Regions from separate parts of the Homo sapiens genome. Here region 1 is linked to region 2. The links come from fine-mapping of genetic effects on gene expression. Tissue or cell type: whole blood. Region 2 holds a variant in brackets; the other region holds the start of a gene. All regions are shown on one strand. Distances are between the middles of the regions. Region 1 holds the start of HIGD2A (HIG1 hypoxia inducible domain family member 2A). Region 2 holds the start of KIAA1191.

The links.
Region 1: HIGD2A starts here. The variant in region 2 is fine-mapped to the expression of HIGD2A in whole blood (TOPMed, PIP above 0.99).

Annotation. Positions count from the first base shown.
Region 1 is chr5:176,385,410-176,393,409 of GRCh38, forward strand. It overlaps HIGD2A (HIG1 hypoxia inducible domain family member 2A), which reads left to right and starts at 3,342. Exons shown (of 2, transcript NM_138820.4): 1 at 3,342-3,564; 2 at 3,922-4,352. The coding sequence starts at 3,411. The coding sequence ends at 4,088. NOP16 (NOP16 nucleolar protein) reads right to left here and starts at 3,189. Exons shown (of 5, transcript NM_016391.8): 1 at 3,024-3,189; 2 at 2,826-2,934; 3 at 1,431-1,500. The coding sequence starts at 3,130. It overlaps CLTB (clathrin light chain B), which reads right to left. Exons shown (of 6, transcript NM_007097.5): 6 at 7,092-7,536. The coding sequence ends at 7,365. It also overlaps a transcript of ARL10 not described here. RefSeq lists enhancers at 2,493-3,176, 2,828-4,027, 3,300-3,619, 3,820-4,039, 3,861-4,544.
Region 2 is chr5:176,356,918-176,368,055 of GRCh38, forward strand. It overlaps KIAA1191, which reads right to left and starts at 4,847. Exons shown (of 9, transcript NM_020444.5): 1 at 4,685-4,847; 2 at 2,894-3,001; 3 at 2,564-2,650. The coding sequence starts at 2,591. ARL10 (ARF like GTPase 10) reads left to right here and starts at 8,570. Exons shown (of 4, transcript NM_173664.6): 1 at 8,570-8,829; 2 at 9,463-9,664. The coding sequence starts at 8,647. MIR1271 (microRNA 1271) reads left to right here and starts at 11,029; the gene lies at 11,029-11,114. RefSeq lists enhancers at 4,603-4,922, 8,035-8,284 and a silencer at 8,435-8,824. The variant C/T (reference allele first, on the strand shown) is at 5,035.

The sequences.
Region 1 (8,000 bases), 27 kb after region 2:
CACTCCCAAGCCACAAGACCCACCACACCAACCACCTGGGGGTCTTTGCCTCCCCATTCCCAAATCCATTGTTGGAACCTCCTTCAGCCCCTTGGATCCCAGACTCTGTCTCCTATGACCCACTCATCTACCAGTATGGCAACTTTTGGAAAGGGAAGTCACTTCTCTCCGGGCCTCAGGTGGATTTACAAGGAAGGTACCAGACTAATAACCTCTACTTAGTGGCAGGTCTCAGGACAGAGATGAAGGCACATACCTGCCCACAGGACAGGGCTCCCTTCCAGCTATAAGCCTCTCAGAGAAGCTCTTGATGTATTATTGCAACACATGAAATGGGACGGTCTAAATACATGAGATCTAGAGCTGCCGGGTCTGGGGCCTGAGGCTGGGCCCCAGCACCTTACTAGTGCTCCATGGGAGAGAAAAAGCCAGGATGTGGAGCCAACTAATGGCTTCACTTTTAAAATAGACAGGCAAATCCTACTCCATTTCTCATCTAGAAAGAGAGAGAAAGAGCTACCTCAGAGAAATGAAGTAGTCGAATCATATCCAGAGGTTAGGTCCTCATATTGTATATAGTCAAAATTATCTTTGACACGGTTGCCAGGGGCTGGAGGTAGAGGAAGATGGGGAGTTGTTTAATGGGTATAGTTTCAGTTTTGCAAAATGAAAAGGTTTTAGGGACCTGTTGCACAACAAAGTCAATATCCTTTACTGAACAGTGCACTTAAAAATGGTTAGGATGGTAACTTTTATGTGTTTTTTAACCACATTTTAAAATTTTTAAAAATGTTCCTCTTTGACTACAGTAAGTGCCTATGGCTTGGTATATACAATCCTGTGCAGTAATTCTTATGAGAACCACTGAGATAAAAGACAGGAACTCAAGGAATTCTGTATCAAATGTCTGGCCATTCAAATCCTTTATCTTTAGGGGAGCTGCTTAAACTCCCTGACAGGTAAGGGGAAGGATGAATGAAGAATTCTAGAGTATTCCCACTTTCCTGTAGGGTTTACTCTCCTCCGTTTTAGCGTTCACTCTCTATAGCCTTAATATACATAAAATCGATTTTGTCATTGGAACATTTATTGAGATGGTGGAATCCCTAAAAATCAGTTCATCCTTAAATTCATGAGAAGCCATACCCATGCCAGAGATTTACTGGTTTCTCTTCTATTCTCCCAGGCACCTGGGTACATCCTCCCTAAACATCTCTGACCTTAGTTCACACAGTAAGGTCAGGGTTTAGTCAGTACAATGAAAAATGAGCCAGCCAGGACACAGTCCTAACTCTGTGAACTTTGAACCAGCTCACTTCTCCCCTCTGAAACTTGGTTTCTCCATCTGCAAAATGAGGACATCTTAGGGCCCTTCCCAGCTTCCCACAGTGCAGGACAGTGACCTAAAGGAATATATGGACCACACCCACCATTCAGCACATAGGGCTTCCGTACAAGCTCTTTAGGCCTCTCCTCTATGTCCACCTCCATGGCCTTCACCTGCAGAGAACAGAGCCCTTGAGACCAGAAGGATCTTTGATGAGGGAAAGTTATAGACTCCTGCTTATCCCAACACAACTACTAACCCATAAGAATCCCTGCCCACGGTTAGGTAGAAGTAGGTAACAATGAGAACTAATGCCCTGGAGGCTTTTTCTCTCTCTCTCTCTTTTTTTTTTTCTTTTTCTTTTTGAGACAGAGTCTCATTCTGTTGCCCAGGTTCAAATGCAGTGGCACAATCTTGGTTGACTGCAACCTCCCCCCGGGTTCAAGTGATCTCCTGCCTCAGCCTCTCAAGTAGCTGGGATTACAATCATGCGCCACCATGCCCAGCTAAATTTTGTGTTTTTAGTAGAGATGGGGTTTTGCCATGTTGGCCAGGCCGGTCTCAAACTCCTGGCCTCAAGTAATCCGTCTGTGCCTTTTACCCCCAACACAATCTTGGTGACAAGGACTTTGTGTTTTGTTCTCTATTAAATCCCCAGGGTGCTTAGGATGTGACATGTTCTCAATAAGTAGTTAACCTAATGAATGGGCTTCGCGAATGAATTTGTTCCATTGCCTTAGGCAAGTTTCTTTTTATTCTTTCATGCCAGAGGAAAATGGCACTACCATTTCTTGAATAAATGTGAGGCTACAGCCACACAGTTAGATAGTCCCTAAGGCAAGGAGTGTTATACCCATTTTATAGATAGGCAGGCAGAGAAAGATGAATTGCTTGCTTTTCTTTTGGGAACCTGGATTCTTTTAATAGTTGTTGAAGCCTCCAGGGGGCCAGGCGGATCACTTGAGGCCCAGCCTGGCCAACATAGCGAAACCCTGCCTCTACTAAAACCACAAAAATCAGCCGGGTATGGTGGCACACGCTTATAATCCCAGCTATTTGGGACGCTGAGGTGGGATATAGCTTGAACCCGGGAAGGAGACTGCAGTCAGGGAAGCCTAGGGAAGCCTCAGACCAAGGATGATTGAATAACAAAGAAAAGGTGTAAGTAAAGATCTCCAACTCTTAGGGAGTACTAATTAGGAAAGTTAAGGGTAGAAAAAGATAAATTAAGGAAAATACCGTTGAGATGCTAATGGGTTAATTTCAGAGAAAAAAGACTGAGTAGAGGGGGTATGGGGAATGTGTGCTGGGGAGGGAGTGTGACGAAGGTCGTAAAGAGACCCTTGCTCAACGTCAGTTGAGCGTTCTGACTGTGGGGAGGTCGAAAACTCGGAAGGGCCTGAGGGAAGGAATGGGCAGTACCACGTTCTGACACCTAGGTCAGTATGGCGGGGGAAGAGTAAAGAAGACAAGGACCGAGACCCTGCCATGTCAGTACCTTTCTCTTACGGAGGGGCACCGCCCTGTTGGGGTCCACAGCCAACCCCATCTCGGCCAGGTTCTGCCGTACCGATTTAGCGTGGTCCCAGGCATGTCGGATGTGGGAGCTACCGGCAAAGAGAGACATCGCGGATCCGTCATCTCGCGGACCGTCCCGGCCGAGGCCCACGGCCACCCGGAACCCCAGCCCCCTCACCATTCGATCCGCGGCGCTGCCTTCCGTCGAGCATTCCGGTTCAGACGCTTTCGGTTGACACTGTAACCAAACTTCTGCCTCCGGGTTTTGCCCTTGGCCTTGGGCATCGCGCTGACCACCGCACCAGCAGCTCAAACACGCTGCCTCTGTCTCTCAGACCTCGTGTAACAAACTCCTTCCGGAAGGCGTGCACAAGGCTTTGCGGGCATTTGGGGAAATGTAGTCCTTTTGTAGCACTACCGTGCTGAGCACTACGACTCCCAGGATGCAACGAGCATTTGCGCCTGCGTACAAGGCTCAATTTATTCGTTTCCCCGCCCCTTTCATGACCTTCACCGGGAGGCTGAGGTCGGAGTCCCGATTTTCTCCTGCTGCTGTGGCCCGGACATGGCGACTCCCGGCCCTGTGATTCCGGAGGTCCCCTTTGAACCATCGAAGCCTCCAGTCATTGAGGGGCTGAGCCCCACTGTTTACAGGAATCCAGAGAGTTTCAAGGAAAAGTTCGTTCGCAAGACCCGCGAGAACCCGGTGGTACCCATAGGTAAGTGGGTGCGGTAGGAACTGCACAAGGAGAGGACAGTGATGTCGGAGGGAAGGAAGTAGAGAAGGACCAGAGCGCTAGCGGGGAGCGGAAGGAGAGCGGACTAGAGAAGAGACGAGGGGGCGGGGCGGTGAGGGGCGAAACTGATTGGAGCGGGAGCAGCGGGTTTAGGGGGCGGGATTTGGGGCCTAAGATTGGGAGGACTCTGTAACTAGGAAGACCTCGACTCGACCTACCCTCGCCGCCCTCCCTCCGCTGTGATCCAGAGATCTTGGCTTTGGGGAAGCGAGACCCAAAGCGGGGAATGACCTGCGGGGCCCGACCTGCTGTTTCCCAGTTGCTTTGTCCCCTCCTCAGGTTGCCTGGCCACGGCGGCCGCCCTCACCTACGGCCTCTACTCCTTCCACCGGGGCAACAGCCAGCGCTCTCAGCTCATGATGCGCACCCGGATCGCCGCCCAGGGTTTCACGGTCGCAGCCATCTTGCTGGGTCTGGCTGTCACTGCTATGAAGTCTCGACCCTAAGCCCAGGGTCTGGCCTTGAAAGCTCCGCAGAAATGATTCCAAAACCCAGGGAGCAACCACTGGCCCTACCGTGGGACTTACTCCCTCCTCTCCTTTGAGAGGCCCATGTGTCGCTGGGGAGGAAGTGACCCTTTGTGTAACTGTAACCGAAAGTTTTTTCAAAAATCCTAGATGCTGTTGTTTGAATGTTACATACTTCTATTTGTGCCACATCTCCCCTCCACTCCCCTGCTTAATAAACTCTAAAAATCCACTTGTATTTAATTCAGTATCATCCCCATGGTTTTTGGTCTTTGATTTTGGAGGAAACGGACTTTGGAGTGGTGCTTAGAAATCGTGTAGTCTAGTGATTCCCGAACTTTCCTAGTAACAGCCACCCAGGGCACTTTGAAAGCAGAGATTTGGCCAGGCGCAGTGGCTCACACCTGTAATCCCAGCACTCTGGGAGGCCGAAGCGAGCGGATCACCTGAGGTCAAGAGTTCAAGACCAGCCTGACCAACATGGAGAAACCCCATCTCTACTAAAAATACAAAATTAGCTGGGCGTGGTGTTGCGTGCCTGTAATCCCAGCTACTCGCGAGGCTGAGGCAGGAGAATCACTTGAACCCGGGAGGCGGAGGTTGTGGTGAGCTGAGATCGCGCCATTGCACTTCAGCCTGGGCAACAAGAGCAAAACTCCATCTCAAAAAAAAAAAAAAAAAAAAAGAATCTCAAGGTCACTCCTTGAGATTCTAGTTCAGTGGGCCTAGAGTAATGCCATTTGAAAAATACTGGTCTAGCCAGCAGTTTTTCAGACTTTCAGTAGGACAACCTTCCTTCAGATGAGGCCTCCCATAGTCGGGTCAGAGGCAGAGGGTTCTGCCCTCCACTCCGCATAACCTCCTCACCCTGCTCCCACCTCCCTAGAGTCTATGGGGCTCCACTGATCTAGACCATCTAGTTCTTTTTTTGAGACGAGTCTCACTGTGTCAGCCAGGCTGGAGTGCAGTGGCAGAATCTCGGCTCACTGCAACCTCCGCCTCCCGGGCTCAAGCAATTTTCCTGCCTCAGCCTCCCGAGTAGCTGGGATTACAGGTGTGTGCCACCACGCCCGGCTAATTTTTGTATTTCGTATTTTTAGTAGAATACTAAAACAACATGGTTTCACCATGTTGGCCAGGCTGGTCTTGAACTCCTGACCTCAGGTAATCCCCCAACCTCGGCCTCCCAAAGTGCTGGGATTACAGACGTGAGCCACCACGCCCAGCCTAGACCATCTGGTTCTTGACACAGTATAGAAGAGGAAACAGGCTCAGAGAAGCAGTCTGGTACAGTGGGAAGAACACAGTCCCGAAGCTCTCCAGAGATTTGTGTACATAGTGTTTGAGGGTTCTGGAAGAGGAGGCTGAGGACCTGAGCACACTCTAGAAGAGAGGTGACCTGTTAGTTCCTCCTTCATGTAGTTTCAAACAAGTATTCCTGGTCTGTGGTCAGCGCTCCTCAAATGTTGGATTTGAGGACCTGCGCTCTTCCCGAGTGATTGTACTGTTTTCAACACCAGCTTCAAGCTGGCAGAAGGAAAAAGGGAGTGAAGACACACCCCTTCTTGAACCCCCCAACAGTCTAGATCTCAGTGGAGGGCTGTACTAGGGCCAGCTAAGTTGCTTGCCTCCACCATGTTCTCTCAGCTTTGAGGCAGAGATGATAGATGTAGAGCAGTGCACTGTGGTGACCCTTGGCATCCAGATACAAGACAAGGACATGGAGTGATGACCACTGTTTGTAAGTGTTGGTGTCATGGTGTCCCCCTCCAAAAATGTTGAAGTCCTTCTAGTGCCTTAGAATTTGACCTTAGGCTGGGTGCTATGGTTCATCCCTGTAATCCCAGCACTTTGGGAGGCCAAAGTGGATAAATTGCTTGAGCCCAGGAGTTTGCCCAGCCTGGGTGACATGGCAAAGCCCCGTCTCTACTAAAAATACAAAGATTAGCCAAATGTGGTGGCACGTGCCTGTAGTCCCAGCTACCTGAGAGGCTGAGGTGGAAGGATTGCCTGACCCAAGGAAGTTGAGGCTGCAGTGAGCTGAGATTGCACCACTGCACTCCAGCCTCAGTGATAAAGCGAGACCCTGTTTGAGAAAAAAAACAGAAAACGAAGATTTGGCCACAAAGACAGACATACCTAGAAGGCAATGTGCAAACAGCCACCTGATGGGGGCAGGATTGGGGTGATGCGTCTGCCAGCTAAGGGATGCCTGAGGCTACCAGAAGCCAGAAGCAGGTGGAACAGACCCTTCCCCAGCTCCTTCAGAGGGAGCATGGCTCTGCCACAGCTTGATTTCAGATTTCTGGCCTCAAGAACTATGAGACAATAAATTTCTGTTCTAAGCCAGCTAGTTCATGTACCTTCTTACAGAAGCCCTAGGAAGCTAATATTTACTGGCAATTACTCAAATCTTTTTAAACATCATGCAGGTCATGAACGTCCTGTTTGCAAACTCTGCTGAAGGGGAAGAAGGTGTGATCACTGGTTGTTTATCCAAAATCCAAGATGAGCCCAGTTGAAGGAGGAAGCGAAATACACAGGGCAGTGGACCCTCCACATCCAGAAGGTCCCAGCCAACCCTAAGGAGGGGAGTCTCATGGGTCTTCAGGGCTCTTACCCAGGCTTAGGAGGAAGCTACCACCAGGAACCTCTGGTCTCGCTTTTCCCTCCCACTACAAGCCACTTCCCCTCTGGGAACCTTGGTGTCCTTGGTTATATGGTGAGAATAACAGAATTTACCTCACAGACTTGTTAAAGGATCGAGGTTACAAAAGCATTCTGCGAGAGGCTGTCTTTCCTCCTGGAGGTGGAGGCAACAGACATGGAGAGCTTGGGGCTCCCACTTGGCTGGGAAATGGGGGAACATTCTCCCTTCTCTCAAGGTCATGAAGCTGGGAAAGTTCTAAGCACAAACCGAGCCCTGACACCAGTTGTGGCTTCCAGAGAAGTGAGAATGATAATAAATAAGTGTAAAAAGAGTCAACAACACACCCTTTAAGCCAAGAAAAAAAATACATCAGGAGGGACAGTCACAATTGAGTAGACTGAGAGGAGGCGTGAGGGGCTGGACCAGAGGGCCAGGAGGGAGCGAGGCGTGATGGGGTGAGGGCCCCCCTCCCAGCGCCTGGAGATGGGGAGGAGTGGAATAGGCTGTGGGTAGCAGCTGCTGCGAGTCTCCACCCCGACCAAAGCAGCTGCTCCTCCTGTGCCCAGGCCCAGCCCATGCTCTGTGGCCATGCACCTAGCAGGCACCTAGCGGGACAGTGGCGTCTGCTTCAGGGACATGAGCACCGAGCGCAGGCGGGACACATCTTTGCACTGCTTGCTGCTCTTGGGGTTGAAGTCACATAGCTGGGCCACCTTCTCCCACTCTGTGCCTGGGGTCTCCTCCTTGGATTCCTTCACGAAAGCCTCCTCGGATGCCCTGCGGGTGGAGATAGGACGGGCTTTTATAGCAGTCTGCTTTCCCCCAGCCTTGCCCTTGAGCAAGGCTGCTTTGCCCAGCCTACTCTGGGGCACTGTGTCCTCCCCAGCCTTGTGCCCCCCTGACTTCAGAGGAGGGCAGCCTTGGCGCAGGAGGAAGCCTAGCTTGGTCCTGCCTCAGGACCTTGGCACTTGCTATCACCTCTTCCTGGAACACGCTTCTCCCAGACCTGTTCCTGGCTTGCTGCTTCTTGTCATTCAGGTCTCAGTGCGGGCCTCACCTCCTCAGAAAGTCTTCCCAGCCTAGGCACCCTCTGTTCATTACTTCCCCATCGGGAGTTCCCAACCTGAGGTTCCTGACACCTAAAGACCCTTGGAGGTCCTAGGACGACCTAATGCAGGACCTTAGCTATTTCACCATTTCCAAAAACTTGGCAGAAGTAGGACACTGACTAACCATCTAAC
Region 2 (11,138 bases):
TAAAAAGAGGATTAGAGGTTGCCAGGGAGTGGGTGGGGGGAGTGAGGATACGACTGCTAATGGTACGAGGTTTTCCTTTGGAGGTTATGAAAACGTACTGCAGTTTGGATGGGTGTGGTGGCTCACACCTGTAATCCCAGCACTTTGGGAGGCTGATGTGGGTGGATCACCTGAGGTCAGGCGTTCCGGCCTAGCCAACATGGTGAAATCCCATCTCTACTCAAAATACAAAAATTAGCCAGGCGTGGTGGTACGTGCCTGTAGTCCCAGCTACTTGGGAGACTGAGGCAGGAGAATTGCTTGAACCCAGGAGGCGGAGGTTGCAGAGAGCCAAGATCGTGCCACTGCATTCCAACCTAGGCAACAGAGCGAGATTCCATCTCAAAAAAAAAAAGAAAAGAAAAGAAAATGTGCTGCAATTGATCGTAGTGTTGTTTGCACAACCCTGTGAATATACTAAAAATCACGACATTGTTCACTTTCAGTGGGTGAATTTTATGATATGTGCATTACATCTCAAACACACACACAAGCAAATAATAATTACTAAGTCTTCCTCCTTGCTAGACAATTACATCCCTCATCTTATCTAATCCTCATGAAGCAGATATTCTTCCCATTTTCAAATTTTCCATTTTCACAATCAACTTGCCCAATATCACCTAGCTTGAAAGAGTGTGCTGGGAACTGGAACACAGACCTGAGCCGGTGCACACACTCTGCATGCAACACACTACAAAGCATTCACTGAATGGGCACAATCCTATGGCTCGCGACGGCTACACGGAGTTTGTGGTAATCACAGCAACAATGAAAGACAAACTAAAACGGAGCTGATGATGTTAAGACTAGAGATGGATCTATATTGGGGAATACGGGAGACTTGGGGAGCAATTTCAAAAACATCTTAAAGACTCCCACTGAACAGCCATCCTAAAACAAATAAAGTCAGCTAGTATTTACTGGAAAATATGTTCATATAAAGACAGACCAAATGCATTCTGGGCAGTAAATACATATTTATCACTGATTTTTAACTCCTGTTTTTACATATTTTGTTTAATCTTCACAACCCCGAGAGATAGGAACCATCATCTTTCTTCATCATCATACTTTACCGAGAATCAGAAATTAAGCGATTCAGATGTAATTAAAAATCACTTTCCTTTCTCATAAAACAATTCAAGTAGTCATCAATGGTGTCAATAACCCAGAACTTGACTCATTAAGGGTTGCTGTGAGCATTTTCATGATTAAGTTCAATCTGCCATTTAAGCAGGCTGGTGCCTTTTTACCAAGACTTCCATCCCACCTCCCCATCACCCCCAAAAAGGTGAGTTTAATCACTTTGGTACATACTACAAGAACTGCACAACTTATTCTGAATTATTATTTGATAACTAGGAAAGTAACAAACTTGTCATAATACCCTTAAATGAAGTGACTATTCTCTTTAAGTTAAAGTTTCATACTATGGCTGAGCGGCTAATAAAATATTTAAATGATGCCAATCTAAGGCTAGGCGTGGTGGCTCACACCTGTAATCCCAGCACTTTGGGAGGCCAAGGTGGAAGGATCACCTGAGGTCAGGAGTTTGAGACCAGCCTGGCCAACATGGAGAAACCCTGTCTCTATTAAAAATACAAAAATTAGCCGGGCGTGGTGGCAGGCAGCTGTAATCCCAGCTACTCGAGGCTGAGGCAGGAGAATCACTTGAGCCCAGGAGGCGGAGGTTGCAGTGAGCTGAGATCACACCACTGTATTCTAGCCTGGGCAGCAGAGTGAGACTCAAAAATAAAATAAAACTGGCTGGGCGTGGTGGCTCACACCTGTAATCCCAACACTTTGGGAGGCCGAGGCAGGCAGATCACAAGGTCAGGAGTTCCGCCGGGCACGGTGGCTCACGCCTGTAATCCCATTACCTTGGGAGGCCGAGGCGGGCGGATCACAAGGTCAAGAAATCGAGACCATCCTGGCTAACACGGTGAAACCTCGTCTCTACTAAAAATACAAAAAATTAGCTGGGCATGGTGGTGGGCGCCTGTAGTCCCAGCTACTCGGGAGGCTGAGGCAGGAGAATGGTGTGAACCCGGGAGGCGGAGCTTGCAGTGAGCTGAGATCGCGCCACTGCACTCCAGCCTGGGCGACAGAGCAAGACTCTGTCTCAAAAAAAAAAAAAAAAAAAAAGGTCAGGAGTTCCAGACCAGCCTGGCCAATATGGTGAAACCCCGTCTCTACAAAAAATACAAAAATTAGCTGGGTGTGGTGGCGGGCACCTGTAATCCCAGCTACTGGGGAGGCTGAGGCAGGAGAATGGCTTGAACCCAGGAAGCGGAGGTAGCAGTGAGCCGAGATTGTGCCGCTGCACTCCAGCCTGGGCAACAGAGCAAGACTCCATCTCAAAAAAATAAAATAAAATAAAATAAGCCAATCTAGTAAATCTAAATACTCGCTTGGTAGCAGAGATTAACCATTAATATATAGTTCCGATAAAATGGTTTCTGTCTAGCTTAAAACATTAATAAGGGCAAAACATGATTTTACCAAAAAGAATTAAGTTTACCAGGCACTTCTGGTTGTCTTGAAGCCATTGAAAGACTGGGATCCAGGTGCTTTTTCTATACAGAATTCCGAGCTGAGTCCCTGCCACCTAATAAAATAACAAAGGGCATTTTCTTATGGTGAGCAGCACCAATGCTGTTCTTCTGGCAGGCACACAGAATTGAACGGCTTGTTTACAAGGTTGAAACACACATGCAAGAGCCAGTGGGTGACAAACATGCCAATGAAAAAAGAAGGATAAAGTCAAACGTCTCACCACACCTGTGGCTGATCTTAACACCTGTGAGATGACAGAGCTAAGATGCCATACATGGTGAAAAAGTCACCTTACCACAGTGAAATGATGTGATGACTAAGCGGACAGACAGATGTTAATGAGGAACATGGTCCAGCTGCTGCAAAGTAGCAAAGCTTCCCAGGAAGAGTCCATCCAGAGGTTCTAATAACAACAAACAGCCAGCATTGGAACAGCCCGTCAGAGTCTGCCAAACACTTGTTTATTCCCCACAACAACCTTGCTCATTTCATTTTCTTAACTCACAGCAAGCGGCTAGATACTACAGTAGGGAAATTTGTTCTTTATAGCTAACACTATAAACTATTTACAGCGTTTATCTTGTCTTTTAATCCTTGCAGCAAGATGGCAAAGCAGATATTATTTATCCCAATCCCAATTTTTTTTTTTTTTTTTTTTTGAGACGGAGTCTCACTCTGTCGCCCAGGCTGGAGTGCAGTGGCGCGATCTTGGCTCACTGCAAGCTCCACCTCCCGGGTTCACGCCATTCTCCTGCCTTAGCCTCCCAAGTAGCTGGGACTACAGGCGTCTGCCACCACGCCTGGCTAATTTTTTGTATTTTTAGTAGAGATGGGGTTTCACCGCACTAGCCAGGATGGTCTTGATCTCCTGACCTTGCGATCCGCCCACCTCGGCCTCCCAAAGTGCTAGGATTACAAGCGTGAGCCACCGCGCCCGACCCCAGTTTTTTTTTTAAGCTATCTCTTACAGAAAGGCTATCCCAAATTTAAAGAGAAGGAAACTGGCCGGGTGCGGTGGCTCACGCCTGTAATCCCAGCATTTTGCGAGACCCAGGCGGGCAGATCACTTGAGGTCAGGAGTTCGAGACTAGCCTGGCCAACATGGTGAAACCCCATCTCTACTAAAAATACAAAAATTAGCCGGGCATGGTGGCGGGCGCCTGTAATCCCAGCTACTCGGGAGGCTGAGGCAGGAGAATAGCTTGAACCCGGGAGGCGGAGGTTGCAGTGAGCCGAGATCGAGCCACTGTACTCCAGCCTGGGCGACGGAGTGAGACTCGGTCTCAAAAATAAAAATTAAAAAAATTAAAAAAATGTTAAAAATAATAATAAAGAGAAGGAAACTAAAAATCAGAGGAGTTAAGTAAATTTGTCCACGGTCACAGATAAGTGGTCCGTGCGCAAGGTAGGTAGTTTCATGCCCAGTTTACAGGGGAGTTAAAACGAGGGCCTGAGAAAGTTACTCTTGTTTTTCAGCTTGCTACACCGTCCCTCTATCCCGATAGGACTCAGACAGAGCAAACAAGTTATTGATAGTTCTTCACTAACGAGCATCGCAAAGGCCGAATTCAGCCATCCTCCCAGTCCAGGGAGCATTCCCGCCCCAGACACGTCCCCTTCCCCTTTCCCTTTCCCTGTGCCCCCACCCCCCAGCTCACCGTCCCTCTGCCTCTCCTTCACAATATACAAGACGGTGCCGCCAGGATACGAAAGGCCGGCTGCTTCACCCACCCCTCCAGGCTAAGATTAGGGCCAGGACCCTAGCCGAAGGCGGGGTGTGGGGAGATGAGGTTGAGGACAAGCCGCGGGGGCTCGGGCTGGGCTGGTCCCACGAAGCGGAGGGGAAGCCCGTACGGGAGCTGCAGGGCATTCCCGGAGAGAAGCCCCATTACGGAGACCCCAGAGAGCGGAGCCAGGGAGGCAAGAGGCGACCCAGCCGAGCTCGAAGCCGGGATGAAGGGTTAAGAGGTGCGGGGAGAGGGGAGTGGCTTGGAGGGGCCCCGAGATCGGGCCTCGCCGGAAGCGCCCCTCCTGATCGCCAGAGAACGCAGCCCCAAGGGAGGGCCCAGGCCCGCCATCTGTTCACCTGTGATCCTGCTGCCGCGGGACTGCCTGCGGCCCGGAGTCCGGCACTAAAAAGGTTCCGAGGGCCCACGTCTCCCGAGAGGCTGTGGCGCAGTCTGGACCCAAGCCATTGTGAGAGCGGCGGCGATTTCGAAGGTCCCCAAGACCCACTAGGTAGCAGTACCACCCAGCGGGCAGGCAGCACTGCAGATAAAGCCTCCGGAGACCGCGGGATCTCGCGCGAGACTTGGCCCAGCGGAGCACAGGGCATGCTGGGAGTTGTTGTCCACGATCGCGAGACCCGCCCCCTCCCCATGCCCTTCGCCGCCCAGCGAGTTGTGGAGCCGCAGCTCCGAGTGTGGAATCCGCCAG[C/T]CCCGAGAGGAAACGCCACACTTCACCACCACTTCCTCAGCGCGTGTGCTGTGCCTGGGTCCGTGACAAGCTAAGGGAAGACGGAGGTAGCATAGTAAAATGACACCCACAAACCCAAGCCCTCAAGGCTCAAAAAGGGCTGCCAAGTGCGAGCACTTGTCATCCTGTTTTTCCCACTTCACGGAGGTGAAGCTGAGACTGGGAGAGATGAGAAGTCACTTCGATTAGCAAGCGGTGCAGTGAGCACGGACTGTCTCCCAAAACAGCGGGGTTAGGCAGGGTTCGTACTAGTAGCTGAACCAAAAAAGGGAACCGACCTCACCTGCCTCCCCTAGGGAAGGCGATCCTAATATCATTTCTCTTTTACATAAAGGAGAGTGAGGCTTAGAGGCGCCAGCTGAGGTGTCAGTCACATCCTGAAGGAAGACTTCTCTTATCCCTGAAGGGTTCACAAAGAAGGCGAAGCAACGAAGTTACAGCAGAATTTGCAAAAATCTATCCACGTTTCTACCCCAGTCCAAAGCTCGCCATCAAAACTCATCTCAGGAGAGCTATGATTGGTGGTGCAGGGTGAATGTCACATTTAGATTTCAGCATTTGAGGCTTCCAGCCGTACTGGCAGAACTGAGAGGCCTTGCTCATGCGACTTGAAACTTAAGCGCTGTTTCCAGACCAGGGTGCTTGAGTGCACTAAGAATTAAAGTCTTTGATGAATTCTATAATTAGCTTATCAACAGCACAATTACATTGCAGTATAATTGTGTGTATATGTGTGCGTGCGTGTGTGTGTTAAAGGTGTTCCTTTGTTAATTTGGAGCTTTTAAAATATGCCATATTTTTTAACCTCTGTGGAAGCAAAGCTGGCACCTTGCTCTTTATCCACCACAGGAAGGGATGTATATCACCTCTCAGTCAGAAAAGGAAGAAATAGCACTTTGCACCCTTATGTAGATCATAAGGTGGGATCATCTCATTTATTTCTTAGCCACAAATACATGAAAACTTAAGACTTTCCTGGAAGTTACTATTTGATTAAAACAACTTTTTCTGGCTGGGCACGGTGGTTCAGGCCTGTAATCCCAACACTTTCAGAGGCTGAGGCGTTCGAGACCATCCTGGCCAACACGGCGAAACCCCGTCTCTACTAAAATACAAAAATCAGCCAGGCGTAGTGACAGGTGCCTGTAATCCCAGCTATTCTGGAGACTGAGGCAGGAGAATCTCTTGAACCTGGGAGACGGAGGCTGCAGTCTGCCTTGTCCTAGGTACCCCCAGTGACTGCCAAGGCTTCCACGTGTGTAGCACGAGGAGGAAGAACAGGAGAAACGACCTGAGTACAGCAGTCGGGTTCTTTTGGCTCTCCAGAGGGGTGACGCCATGTACGGCTGGCTGTAGGGTACATGGGTTGAGAGACCGCCTGTGGCTCTCAGGGCCCAGCAGGGCTACCTCTTTCCCTTTATATTGTCTCAACTCTTCACCTCCTTTTAGTTCGCGATTCCTCTGTACCCCTGGCTCTGGGTCCCAGCCCCTATTCCTTCTGATTTGTCCCCCTTTCCCTTTGACTACATATATATGCTCCTCTCCTCCCAGATAGTGATGTTTTAGCTACATCTTATTTCTTCCGGCATTGATTCTTTTGAAAAATTTATTTCTGGCTGGGTGTGGTGGCTCATGCCTGTAATCCCAGCACTTTGGGAGGCCTGAGATCACACTACTGCACTCCAGCCTGGGCTACAGAGTGAGACTCCATCTCAAAAAAAAAAAAAACTTTATCCCTGATATTTGTGGTACCAATGTCTGAAGCTGTCATGGTCTTGGTGCATAGCACCTATGTGAGAGCACCTATTTCTTTTCCACAAATAATAGACTGTAAACATTTTTTTTTTTTTTTTTTTTGAGACAAGGTCTCGCTCTGTTGCCCAGGCTGGAATGCAGTGGCGCAATCTCGGCTCACAGTAACCTCTGCCTCCCAGTTTCAAGCGATTCTCCTGCCTCAGTCTACCAAGTAGCTGGGACTACAGGCGCCTGCCACCACGCCCGGCTCCACGCCCGGCTAATTTTTTGGATTTTCAGTAGAGATGGGGTTTCACCGTGTTAGCCAGGATGGTCTCGATCTCCTGACCTCGTGATCCGGCCGGCTGCCTCGGCCTCCCAAAGTGCTGGGATCACAGGCGTGAGCCACCGCACCAGCCAAACTTTTAATCTTAGCAATTTTGTGGGTTTTCCCCTCTAAGTGGGTGTATTTTTGAGGAGGAGCTAATTTTTTTTTCTTTTTTTTTTTTTTTGAGACGGATTCTTGCTCTGTCACCCAGGCTGGAGGGCAGTGGCGCAATCTCAGCACACTGCAACCTCCTCCTCCTGGGTTCAAGCGATTCTCCTGCCTTAGCCTCCTGAGTAGGTGGGATTACAGGCACGTGCCACCACGCCCGGCTAATTTTTGTAGAGATGGGGTTTCACCATGTTAGGCAGGCTATTCTCGAACTCCTGACCTCAGGTGATCCGCCTGCCTCGGCCTCCCAAAGTGCTGGGATTACAGGCATGAGCCACCACACCCGGCCAGAAATAAATTTTTCAAAAGAATCAATGCCGGAAGAAATAAGATGTAGCTAAAACATCACTATCTGGGAGGAGAGGAGCATATATATGTAGTCAAAGGGAAAGGGGGACAAATCAGAAGGAATAGGGGCTGGGACCCAGAGCCAGGGGTACAGAGGAATCGCAAACTAAAAGGAGGTGAAGAGTTGAGACAATATAAAGGGGAAGAGGTAGCCCTGCTGGGCCCTGAGAGCCACAGGCGGTCTCTCGACCCATGTACCCTACAGCCAGCCGTACATGGCGTCACCCCTCTGGAGAGCCAAAAGAACCCGACTGCTGTACTCAGGTCGTTTCTCCTGTTCTTCCTCCTCGTGCTACACACGTGGAAGCCTTGGCAGTCACTGGGGGTACCTAGGACAAGGCAGTCAGCCCTAAACATTCTGAAGTCCTGACACTGCTTAATTCAGCCTGACCAGGACCCCAGCAAAACCCCTGTGGTCCGGGAGGCAGCGAAAGAAGGCTAGAGGTGGCGGGGAGCCACGGACCTGGGTTCTATTCCTGCCTCTGCCACCCCACTGCCGTGTGATATCGGGCGTCTTGCTTCAATTTCCTCCCGAGGTCTTGAGGGATGACCGGGAGACAGATCGCTTGGGTTTGAACGCAGGCTACACCAAAGCACTACGATGCGGCGTTGGGCGGGTTACTTAACTCCTGGGCCTCGGTTTTCCCTTCTGCGTGGTATCATTGTAAGGGGTAACGGAGAAAAGCCGTGAGCTAACCCCTGGTGGATGCTAGCAAGCACCGCCGTCTCCCGTCCTCCCCAGGCACAGCCTCTCCTTCCTCCACCCTGCACCTGGCAGGGGGACCGGAGGTCCCCGCGCGCCGGCCAGCGCCCCACCACCCACGCCGCCGGGTCCCGGGCGGCCTGCCGTGACAGCGGCAGTGCATTGTGGGGCTTGTAGTGCGGGACTGGGTCTGGGTGGGTGGGCGCGGCCGCAGCAGTCGCAGCGGGGCCATCTTCGGCGGGCGAGTGGGCTCGGCCTGTGCAACCCGCACCTGCGTCCCTCGCCCGGCCCGATGGCGCCGCGGCCGCTGGGCCCCTTGGTGCTGGCGCTGGGCGGCGCCGCGGCGGTGCTGGGCTCGGTGCTCTTCATCCTCTGGAAGACCTACTTCGGCCGCGGCCGAGAGCGGCGCTGGGACCGGGGAGAGGCCTGGTGGGGCGCGGAGGCTGCCCGCCTCCCCGAGTGGGACGAGTGGGACGTGAGTGCCGGGCCGAGGCCTGCGGAAGGGCGGGCAGGCTGGGCTGCGACTCCGCGCATGTGGCCAAGGGGTGTGACCACGGAACGGCCCTGCTGGTGCCGGGAGCTTGGGGGGTCGAGGGCTTGGCAGCCGCAGCGCACAGGCCCCGCGCGGGTGGGCGGTCAGAGCCCGGGAACCGAGGAACGGGTGGGTGTGCTTGGGTGCGTGCGGCGCCTTGGCGCCACGCCGTCGCTCCACGCCATGAGGCTCGGGTGTTCCAGCGGGGGCCGGAGTTTGGAGGGCGCGGCTCGGGAGCATCCCGGGGCCCAGCCGGGTCGGCTCGCGCCCCTCCGGCGCCTGCGCAGTGCACCCCGCCCGGGGGTGGGGATGTCGGGAGAAACCCCATCCCCTCCCGCCTGCGGTCGGGACTCCGAGACCGGTGGAGGAAGCGGGGCGCGCGAGCGTTTAAGGAATTCGCCAAGGGTTTGGAATTCAGGACTGCAAAGGCGGCGTTCGTCCCACTCATCCAGACCATGCCTGCCTGTCCCAGGACGGGTGGAAGGCGGGCCTGGGCCCTCTGGTGCCTTCGGTCTTCCCTCGGGAAAGGTCCTTCGGGAGGCCGCCAGCCGCAACCTTACCTCCGCTTCCCCGCAGCCCGAGGACGAGGAGGACGAGGAGCCGGCGCTGGAGGAGCTGGAACAGCGCGAGGTGCTGGTGCTGGGGCTGGATGGCGCAGGCAAGAGCACGTTCCTGCGCGTGTTGTCGGGGAAGCCACCGCTGGAAGGCCACATCCCCACCTGGGGCTTCAACTCCGTGCGTCTGCCCACCAAGGACTTTGAGGTGGACCTGCTAGAAAGTGAGCGGACACCCTACCCCATCTCCCCGTCTCCTCTACTGGACCAGTCCTGGATTCTCTGCAGGGAAGGGGGCTTCCAAAATGCATGTCTAAGCAGCACATTCCCCTCTACGAATCCTTCCCACCGCTCTCCGGGGCACAGGATTCAGCCCACGCTCTGTGCTCTGACATTTAGGGCCCTTCGTGATCGGGCCTCTCCAGCTGCACCGCCTGCCCCATCACCCCTACCAAAGTCGATAGGCCTAACACAGAGATACTAACAGCTAAGGGTTCATATGCCAAGCACTTGACGGGCATTGCTTAAGAAAACTCCCCTAAACAATTACATAAAACTAGAATCGGTCACTACCCTCGTTATCTCCAGAGGAAAATGAGTTCCAGCAGTAGTATCATGAATCCAAGGTCACCCACCTTTCTAGTCTTTTTTTTTTTTTTTTTTTTTTTGAGATGGAGTCTCACTGTGACACCCAGGCTGGAGTGCAATGGCGCTGTCTCGGCTCACTGCAACCTCCTCCTCCCGGGTTCAAGCGATTCTCCAGCTTCAGCCTCCTGAGCAGCTGGGATTACAGGCGCCCGCCACCACGCCCGGCTAATTTTTGTATTTTTAGTAGAGACGGGGGTTTCACCACATTGGTCAGGCTAGTCTTGAACTCCTGACCTCAAGTGATCTGCCCGCTTCGACCTCCCAAAGTGCTGGGATTACAGGCGTAAGCCATCGCACCCCACCATTCTAGTTTTTTTTTTTTGGAGACAGGGTCTCTGTCGCCCAGGCTGGAATGGCAGTGGGCAGTGGCACACCCTCCTCCACTATTGCCTGTCTGGCCCAAACTAGTGTCATCTTTCCTCTCAGCACCACAGCCTCCTCTTTGGTCTTCCTGCTTCCCCTTCTGTCCCTAGTGTCAGCTAGAGAAAACCCATGTCAGGTAATGTCACTCTTGCTTAAAGCCCTTGGGGGGCTCCCCACCCCCTCACTGTGGTCTTTGGCCCCATGTGGCCCGCCCCAGCCAGCCTCACAGCCATCTCTTTCTCCTTCTTGCAGTGCCTCAGCACCCCAGCCTTCTTTCTGTTTCCCAGACACTTCCAGCATGCTCTCCCCTCTGTCTGGAATGCTTTCCTCTGCCTCTTCCCATGGCTGGCTCCTTCTCATCATCCCACTCAGCTCACATGCCACTTCCTTGATGAGACCTACCCAGACCACCCAATCCAGGGCCAACCCCTGTTCCACCTCAGCCACTTTCCCTTTTTTCTGTTTTATTTCTTTCCTTTTTGAAATGTGTTGATGTCATTGCCATGTCCTTCCCAGTTAGGGAGGGAGCTCCTTGGTGCAGGGCCCCTGCTTGCCTTGCTCACCTCTGTATCTGCAGCACCCAGATCAGTGCTTGGCACCTAGCAAGCACTCAGTAAATATTTGTTGAGTGCCTGCTATGTGCCAGGCATTGTGCTGAGGGCTTTGTGGGGATTCAGAGGTAAGTGC